Homo sapiens: one gene and its partner. The protein of the gene in region 1 binds, or shares a complex with, the protein of each later gene. Each region holds a gene or a part of one and is shown on either strand. Other genes may lie near its edges.

Evidence for each region.
Region 2: the proteins of TBC1D23 (region 1) and FAM91A1 are in contact, whole or in part, in a crystal structure (PDB 8JJ9), measured with the Homo sapiens proteins. Residues at the interface, in NP_001186127.1 of Homo sapiens: Arg533, His534, Val535, Ser536, Ser537, Asp539, Val541, Gly542, Lys543, Pro544, Tyr545, Arg546, Val548, Pro550, Val551, Phe552; in NP_659400.3 of Homo sapiens: Arg49, Glu60, Arg61, Tyr64, Asp84, Ile85, Lys88, Gly89, Leu90, Arg91, Ile92, Thr93, Phe95, Ser96, Ile159, Pro161, Tyr176, Ile177, Thr178, Glu179, Asp181, Ile182, Lys190, Asp194, Ile197, Asp198, Tyr216, Asn217, Lys218, Gly219.

What each region holds. Positions count from the first base shown.
Region 1 is NC_000003.12:100,291,733-100,299,041, reverse strand, and holds part of TBC1D23 (TBC1 domain family member 23), read right to left. Parts: intron 4,198-7,309; exon of another isoform or gene 4,116-4,197; coding exon of another isoform or gene 4,080-4,115; intron 3,956-4,079; coding exon 3,831-3,955; intron 3,741-3,830; coding exon 3,694-3,740; intron 2,871-3,693; coding exon 2,767-2,870; intron 1,120-2,766; coding exon 997-1,119; intron 1-996. UniProt on the Homo sapiens protein: Putative Rab GTPase-activating protein which plays a role in vesicular trafficking. Involved in endosome-to-Golgi trafficking.
Region 2 is NC_000008.11:123,813,215-123,816,037, reverse strand, and holds the end of FAM91A1 (protein FAM91A1), read right to left. Parts: 3' UTR 586-2,823; downstream 1-585. UniProt on the Homo sapiens protein: As component of the WDR11 complex acts together with TBC1D23 to facilitate the golgin-mediated capture of vesicles generated using AP-1.

The DNA of each region.
Region 1 (7,309 bases):
TTTTTCTTTTTTAGATGTTGTTCTTTACTGGAAAGTCTTAAAATACATAGAAGGAGAGTGTCTGTTTGAGCTATAAAACTAATTATAATTAATTATAAAACTAATTATAAAACGCTATATAGTTATAAACACAACTCTAGATATGCTATTCTTTTTTGCAAATAAATCTGCAAATTTATCAACAGCTCAATTCACGTAAGAACTAAACATCTATTTCGTGTGGGGGGATGAAGGGAGAATGTTCTGAAATACCAGTTTCAACTAAAGAAGTTCACATGGATCTCTTTAAACTGGATAACATGTTTTCATTTGTTTTTAAATATTAGTTTGAATAAGAAAAAAGTGAGATGCTTGTATTTTGAAAATCCTCAATAACCAGCGCAGATACAGTAAGAAATCCAACTAAGAAAGATCTACCATAAAAGGCTATTTTCCCACGTCCATTCCTTTCCTGCCCTCAACCTTGGAAATACACTACACCTTCCAAATACACACCATGGTTAACTGCTGCACTACTAGTAATAAAGACCATATATTAAAAACATCATTGGTCAAATTGACTTATTAGATTTTCATGAAGAAAATTTCATTTTCACAATTCTCCTTTGCTATAAGTTGTATGGAACTAAACCATGTAATTCAATTAGCTGTAAACTACCAGAAACTGTTAAATGCTAAATTCACCCTTTTAAAAGTATTTTATACAATGCCACATTCAGTTGCTCTACTGAAATATGGAAAAAAGATACGGCGATTTACAAAAACTGGTGTCAAGAATGTCAACAATAATTAATTGTAGACAATTAAAACACCACACAAGCTGACAAGTTTTAAAATGACCCTCTGAACATAACATTTAACACAATCATTCAAAAAGCCAAAAGAGCCACCTTGTTGCAGTAAATTGATTTTGTGGGAATCAATGAACAGGGAGGAAGTTGGTTCCTTGTATTTAAAATGAACAGTCCCCTAACAAACTGGGTTTCCTTTACTTACCCCTTGTAGCTGATTCGCTTGAAGGATCTCTGACACGGAGATGGCCAGACAAAGAGCCTGACTCAGATCTGCATCATCATCCTTAATTCCCAACAAAGTACTACCAAAGAGATGGTGATTATCCTGTTTGAAGGGAAATTTTTAAACATTATGAAAAAAAAAATCAAACTTTCTTCCTAAAAATATTCTTATTAAACCATGATAAAAGGTAAAATTATAATACTCTTGAGTTGTGATTTTTTAAAACTTAATACTACATAATCTCAAATTTTATAGGCTAAGAACTACAAAAATGTCACATAAAGTCCCTGTCAGTGTTCATACAAAATGAAAGACTAAGAAAAAAAAAACACATTCTAAATAGCTATTTTCTATACTACCACCTGTAGTTAATATTGAACTTTAAAAATGGTTACTTACAATTTTTCATATCTTAATAAAAACAAATATGTGGCAGAAATCTATTGCATAAATGAGTTAAAATACTGATCCACAGCCTGCTCTAATTCACAACTGCTAGTACAGTTTCACTATGTCTGAAGAATAAAAGGTGCAGCTCTTGAATAAGAAAAAAAATAAGACTTCTTTTTCATTCAGTATTTTAAACTACTATCCTACCATCTGACTTATACAGCATTGTTAGGAACTGAAGAGTTCTATATAAGAAAATTATTAAAATAGTTGAAACTGGTCCCTAGAAATAAGTCTTTTTAAATTAGTTATTTTTGAGGGAAAATGATCTTAAAAGGTTTCCTTTACCTGCTTTCTAAAACACAGTATACTAAACATAACTTAACTTTATCTTGACACTTCAGTGACACGATGAGTACCAACTAGAAATTATTATGGCAGAATGCTTTAAAAAAAAAGGTGCTCTCATGGGCACCTGAAGTCACATACAAACCTGTCTGCTTTATAAACTTGTGCCTCTTCCACTATTAGCTTTTGCTTCTTAGAGTTTCATTTTTCAGGAGTTCACATCACTCATACTTCTAATCTGGTGTCCTTTATTAGGCATCTGTCTGGTCTAAGGATCTAAGTCTTTACGGGGCCTAAATGACCTTTCTTTATAAGACAGCTCAGCATTATTAAGACTATACAAGCCTGAACTCCAGAGAAAAGTGGCAAAACTCTACCTCCTCCACTGGATTACTACTGTAATATAATTTTTTTTTTTTTTTTTTTGAGACAGAGTCTTCACTCTGTCGCCCAGGCTGGAGTGCAGTGGCACAATCTCAGCTCACTGCAAACTCCGCCTCCTGGGTTCACGCCATTCTCCTTCCTCAGCCTCCCGAGTAGCTGGGACTACAGGCGCCCACCACCACGCCCGGCTAATTTTTTGTATTTCTTAGTAAAGATAGGGTTTCACCGTGTTAGCCAGGATGGTCTCGATCTCCCGACCTCGTGATCCACCCACCTTGGCCTCCCAAAGTGCTGGGATTACAGGCGTGAGCCACCACGCCCGGCCCTGTAATATAATTTTTAAAGTCAAGAAAGCACTAATTTAGAAAATATCTCAGTCAATTTTCTTATGATCAGAAATAACAATAATCAGAAGAGAGGTAAGATGCGTTCTACTATCTTTTTAACTTGTCTGTTCCTCCACTAGGGAGGGTATTTACAGAGATGAAAAAAAAAAATCACACAAAACTACAACACATAAAGAAACAGAAAAAATTGACAACCTATTTTAACTAAAGTGAATATAAAGTAATAAAACAATGTACAAAATATGAAATACAACATAGTTGGTCATTTCTGGTCTTATACCTTCCTAAAAGAAGCCGGTGTTTTGCTGCAATAATACTGAGCCAGAGAGAAAAGGTCTTCTATATCTTCTATATTCAGACTGGATGGAGTATTTTCCAAGAACTCTGAAATATTATAGACATAATATTTAGTAGTTTGTGAAAAATGCAAATATTGTTTATGTATCAGAGCCGAAATATCTTCATCATAAATACTATGCAAATGGAGTCTCAACACTGGTGCTTTTACAATGACTTGTGGAAAAGTGGATTTCTCCAAATGAGCTGAAACGGCTAATGTAAATCTCTTGTCAGTGAAGGATAGTGTCAGGCAATCAAATCAAATTCATTAACCTTAATTAGAATTCTATGATTTATTTATTAAACATATATGAAGAAATGCCAAGGCCCCTGAACATAAAAAATGCCTAAGAAATAGTTACTGACTTAAAGAACTTTGTCTTGTGTGAAAAAATAAAAATAAATCATTATAATACAGTAAGATAAACATTGTTATACAGATAGAACAAAGTGCCAGGGAATATAGAGAGGAAGTAACTATCTCTATGTGGGGGATATGGTGGGGAGAATCCAAAAGGAGAACCAAGGTTTCACAATTGAAATATCATATAAACTGAGTATTGAAAGGTAAATTAAGGATGGGTAGGGAGGAACAGAGGAGGGCAATCTATTCGAACAGTGAAACTAATGAAATAGTATATGGAAAGGAATGAAAGAGTGAACAAATATGAAGGAATGAATGAAGATGGCAAAATAAAGGAAAATAGTCTTTAAGGTCTGTACCTGGAGAGTGTTTATATAATCTGAGAGTTGAATGGAGCCTCAGAGCTCTTCTAGACTAATCTCCTAAATTTACGAATGAGGAAACTGAGTAACTTACACAGATAAAGAGACCTGAAATGTTTTCACTACATTAAATGATACTTACTGATAACTTCTTCTTTGCTGTCTGACTCTTGTGTTAAAATAACTTCTCTGTAAAAGGGAATCAAATCAATTTGAGTTAAATATTAACAGAGCACCCTGAGAAAAGAGGAAAAAAAATCTAACCAACCAGATACTTACTTTGCATTAACAAGGATAATTAACATTAAGAAATAAATAAAAAATGGATCTGCTTGTTGTAGATATCCATCCCATATTGCCTGAGTGACTTCAGTGGAACAGTAACATGCAAAAAGACTTCCAAGCTGTAATCAGGAAATGAAATGAGAGACATAAACCACTGGAGGTGACTTGTTCTCTTAAAAGTATTAAAGCAAATGAATAAGAAACATTATATCAAATTATCTGCACCTGATATTTAATGCGTACCTTAATCTTAGTGTATGAAATCCAAAGGCAAAACATGTGAATTCAAGGGACAATGGAGCCACATATTAACTGTGTGACTTAGGACATGTCAACCTCTTTAAAGCTTCCATTTTTACTTCTGTAAAAAAGAGGAATAATGCTACCCATCTTCTACTATTATTGTGAAAAGAATACCTAAAGTAACTAGCACATATCTTTGCCATAGCATAACTAGCATAATTATGGTCTGAGCTCCATAAGAGTAACTAAAATAATTACAATATAATAACAGCACAGTATTTAAATTACAAGGTAATTGTGAGGATCAAACGTGGTAATTTAAGAGCAGCTAATAAAACTTTAATCATAATATAAATATGAATTGCTCCCAAAGCTCACTTGTACATCACTTGAAAGAGATTAGGCCGGGCGCAGTGGCTCACACCTGTAAACCCAACACTTTAGGAGGCCAAGGTGGGTGGATCACCTGAGGTCAGGAGTTTGAGACCAACCTGGCCAACATAGTGAAACCCCGTCTCTACTAAAAATACAAAAATTAGCCAGGCATGATGGCACGTGTCTGTAGTCCCAGCTACTTGGGAGGCTGAGGCAGGAGAATCACTTGAACCTGGGAGGCAGAGGTTGCAGTGAGAAGAGATCTCACCACTGCACTCCAGCCTGGGTGACAGAGTGAGACTCTGTCTCAAAAAAAAAAAAATAAACACAAAAAAAAATAAATAACATTCATATCCTTCAATAAATTTCAGGAGCTAAGAGTTGTTAATTTATAAGCAACTCTACAGCCCAACTGTGTTTTAAGTTGCATGAAGTAATATTTTTAGATCATTCAACTTTCATTAGATACAGAAATAATTCCATCTACAAGTTTAAATTTAAAAAATTTTTAACAGCTAAAGAGAATTAACGGGAACACATATATTTAGTGCACTCTTTGTGCAATACTAAGCTAATACTAAACTATTATCACATACCATTAAAAATATCTCTTACTTAAATTCTCACAACAGGTGTGCAATACTAAGCTAATACTAAACTATTATCACGTATCATTAAAAATATCTCTGATTTAAATTCTCAAAACAGGCCTGGAAAGTAAACACATTTCTCCCCATTTTACAGGTGAGAAAGTAGATTTCAATTACTCCCCATTTTTTTCAGGCGAGGAACTTGGATTACTTTACTTTCTCAAGCTCACAGAGCTAGTGAGTGGTGTTGGGAACAGAAAAAAGCCTGAGATTCCACAGCCCATGTAATTGCCATCACACTTGACCACAAGGCTTTTAAAATACATAATGCTACTAATGTTTTTTGTGGTTGCTTTAAAAATTACGATTACAAACACAGATTAGAAGAGGTACATACAAACAGAATAGCAATACACAGTCATCTTTAAGCTCACTTAGCTCAACGAAAGTTACCACTGCATTGCTCACAGTGGTTTAGGAATTACTTTTTAATTGTTTCATCTCATGATACTTAAAAAACTCTATTTCATCAACATGATACTAGTAGCAAGAGTAAACTATCTGAGGCCAGGCACAGTGGCTCACGCCTGTAATCCCAGCACTTTGGGAGGCCGAGGCGGGTGGATCACGAGGTCAGGAGATCGAGACCATCCTGGCTAACATGGTGAAATCCCATCTCTAATAAAAATACAAAAAATTAGCCGGGTGTGGTGGCGGGCGCCTGCAGTGCCAACTACTCGGGAGGCTGAGGCAGAAGAATGGCGTGAACCCAGGAGGCGGAGCTTGCAGTGAGCCAAGATCATGCCACTGCACTCCAGTCTGGGTGAAAGAGACTCCGTCTCACAAAATAAATAAATAAATAAATAAGTAAACAAACAAACAAACAAACAAACTATCTGGCATATCAGCTGAAGAGAAACCACTCAGTTTAAACCTCCAGCTATCAGCACGAATTCAGAGCTCTGGCATCAGAAATGGCATTTCCTAGGCAGAGAGACCTCTATTATTAAAATGCCTAAGAAAAATAGTTTACTACCTTAACATAAATAGGTAGATTCAGTGGCAACATATGAATCTCAGAGAAGCTACAGTTTTGACAAGACTAGGCTTGGCTCACACCTGTAATCCCTGCACTTTGGGAGGCCTGCGTGAGAGGATTGCTTGAGCCCAGGAGATTGAGACCAGCTCAGGCAATATGGTGAGACCTTGACTCTACAAAAAAATTAAAACATTAGCCAAGTGTGGTGGTGCATGCCTGTGGTCCCAGCTACTCAGGAGGCTGAGGTGGGAGAATCACTTGAGCCCAGGAGGTGGAGCTTGCAGTGAGCCAAGACTGTGCCACTGCACTGCAGCCTGAGAGACCAGAGCAAGACCTCGTCTCAAAAACAAAAACAAAAAACTGACAAGACTGTGGCCAAGAGGGAATTAAAGAACAGGTTACTGAGGTTTGAGATTTAATGAGCCCAGAAGTGAAACCAGTTAGAATTCTCCAATTACCCATTTCCTGATTGTTAACTCATCCTATCATCCTCTGAAGTAGGTACAGTACTATTATTTCCACTTTGCAGATGAGGAATTGAAGCTCAGAGGCTGTCTTAGATCACACAGTTAATAATGGGAAGAAATGGGATTCTTCCTGAAGAAAAGTTAAGTAATACATAATAAAAGGATATGAACATATAGTCTCCTAGGACCCAATCATTGTTTTAGAAAGATCTCAAGTTAACCAGAAGAGCAGCAGTTAACCAGAAGTGTGGTCTGGGGACCTCGTAGAAGTCCCCAGGATTCTTTACAAAGGATCTGTAAGGTCAAAACTATTGTTACACAAATATGTAGAATTTACCTGCCTTTTGCATATATATTCCCTCGAAAATGAACAATAGAATTTTCCAACGCCTACATGATATGTGATATTATCACAGATTGAAATAAGGGCCAGGTGTGGTGGCTCAGGCCTGTAATCCCAGCACTTTGGGAGGCTGAAGTGAGCAGATCACCTGAGGTTAGGAGTTCGAGACCAGCCTGGCCATCGTGGTGAAACCCCGTCTTTACTAAAATTACAAAATTAGCCGGGCATGGTGGCCGGCACCTGTAATCCAAGCTACTTGGGAGGCTGAGGCAGAAGAATCGCTTAACCTGGGAGCCACGGCACTCCAGCCTAGGCGACAAGAGTGAAACTCCATCTCAAAAAAAAAAAAAAAGAAAAAAAAAAGCAGATATGATAATCCATCTTTGATGTAGCCAAACATTAATGAGATTTGCAAA
Region 2 (2,823 bases), on another chromosome or scaffold:
ATACATACTGACATCATGTACCCTAAGATATGTTGTACTGGGGGGAAGGGCACATCACCTTTGTAGTACCCTTTCTGATAAAACGTAGCCTCAGTCTAATCACGAGGAAACATCAGACAAACCCACACTGAAGGATGTCTTACAAAATAACTGACCGGTACTCTTTCTAGTGTCAAGGTCATGAAAGACCGAGAAAATGTTATATTGGAGGAGACTAATGAGACACTGATAACTAAATACATGCGATGTGGTATCCTGGACTGGATCTTGACAACAAAAAGACATTAGTGGGAAAACTGGTAAAAGCCTAATCAAGTGTGCAGTTTAGAAAATACTAGTACCAGGGTTAACTTCTGAGTTTTCATAGACCTGCCATAGTTTACAGAAGGTGTCCACGCTAGGGGAAGCTCAGTGAAGGGTACAGGGAACATCTGACTATCTTTGCCAGTTTCTGTAAATCTGAAATTACTACAAAATAATTAAGTTTTTTGTGGGTTTTTTTTTTTTTTAAGTACAGGAAAGCCACAGCACCAAACCATGGTTGTATTTAAAATTAAGACAGGAACTTTCAGAAAATTAAACACATTTTCATAGTAACTTGATCAATACCACAGTTTATTTGTAAACATGTTATATGTGTCAATAATCAAATTGACAACACTTTATAGATTTCATTGTATAATATTAACATCCTAACAGAAAACGATCCACTGTACTCAGTTACAGTTTGGTATTTTAAAATCCTTAAATACAAATTGTATTTGAAACACTGAACACAAAAAAGAAACATGAATGGCAGAGAAAACTGAAAACAACAAGTAAAAGAAACCAATATTCCGCTCCCCTGAAAAAAAAACATAAAATCATCTGATTACATAATTTAAAAAAGAAACAAAGGAAATCAGATGACATTTTTTGATATAAAGTTGCATTTCTTCAAATCCATTTTAGAGGTGAAATTGTATCAATATTAAATTCTATGTCTTTTTTGATATTTGTTCTTTCTTTCCTCTTGGTTTCTAAAGAATGTTTGCCAGGGTTTAAATTACATTAAGGAAGCGGGAAAAAGAAAGGAAGGAACATGGTAAAAAGCCAAATGAAATTAACTATTTGCAAAATAATTGGACGTAAATTTTTCATGAATCTTCTTTGGCAAATAACAAAGTCTGCATTTTAAATTTACCTTTTTGTTGAAATGGATCAATGCTTGTAAGATTTAAGAGATTACATGAGTTAATGTATAAGTAAAACAAAGCCAAATTCACAAAGCAAGGCGCAAACATCAGCTTTTCACATTTTGCTAAAAGCTCTAAAAATGCACTCTCCCTCCTTAAGAGGACCAGAGGTCTTCAGCTCGGAATCAGATGATTACCCTTGCCTCATTCAACACAAGAAACCAGAGGGGACCCCATGGTTCTTCGGTACTTTCCCTAAAATTCATGATCACTATTAGGTTCTATTTCTTCCTCCTTTCTCTCTCAAAGGAAATATAGCAGCAAATCATTCCCATATTTTAAGCTTTAAATTCACCAACAACTGGGTTCACTGCCAACAACTACAAATGTTCAATTCTGTATTAGTGTACATGTCATTACAGTTGGTTTAGATGGTTAATATAGGAATAAATAAAATAACTACAGTTCAAACAAAGGAAATTAAAATGAGATTAAAGAGCCCCGATCAAAAAAAAAAAATACTTACAACTTTCAGCTGAAAAACTGTAAAAGTTACATACATACATACCTAATGGCACTAGGAATGTACAATATCAATTATTGGAAAAATAAGTGAGTGACTCAGAGTCGTAAGAAATTATTTAATATTAGTATTTTTTCTTTTATAGACAAACATAACATACACATGGTTTCTACCTTCTATAAGACAAAGTAGAAAACTAACCGTTACTGCATTTACCTCAAACACAGCACTGACTGTGCCACAGATAACATGGTCCAAAATATTCAATTCTATAGATAGGCCATGGTATTGAATGCATGGTTAAGTTTTAGGAAAGGCATATATTTCCTGAAGTATGTATGTTAAATACACAAATATCTATAAATAACAAAAAGTTACCAGCAAAAACGTTTAGGTTATAACATTCCCAAACTTCCTAACATTTTAAGTGTTTTAGATATATGTTGTCTGACCAGTTCGTTTGGTTACAGTTTTAAACTAGCAAACCATTACCCTGTAAGAGGAGCTAAACTAAACTATAACACTGCACAAACTTCCCAAGGAAGGTAACTTGAAAAGTCTAAAAAGTGATTCCAATTATTCTAATTAACATTTGAGATGCTAAAAGAATCAATGACTCAAGAAACACTTTGAAGTAATTCCATTTTTCTTTATCATTTTCTAAAAAAGTATTCACATAAATTTAAGATCCAGATTGCTTAAGAGTATGTCTTCAAAGTAGGTTTATCACTAAAGCATTCTGATCCAAAGACATAGTCTTAATGCTTCTAATATGTAATTCTAACCTAAAATCACAATCCTTGGTTTGAAAACATCAAAGCTAAGAAACAAAAAAATAAATCAGGGTGAAAGTGTGCAGCAGCTATAGCTACAAGAGTGGAAAATAAATTCTATTTTTTCCATAAAGACTCTATGAAAATATAAAGCCCAAAGTCAGTGACAACAGAAGTCCACATATAAATGGTGTTTAAAAATAGAAAGTCTTCTAAAGCTTCTCATGAGATGTCAATGAATAGTCATAATCTTAAGACCTTATAAATCAAGGTTAAGTTATACACAACTATGCTGATTTACATACCTTCTACAATGTCCAACTGACATACATAATTTACAGACACCCATAGG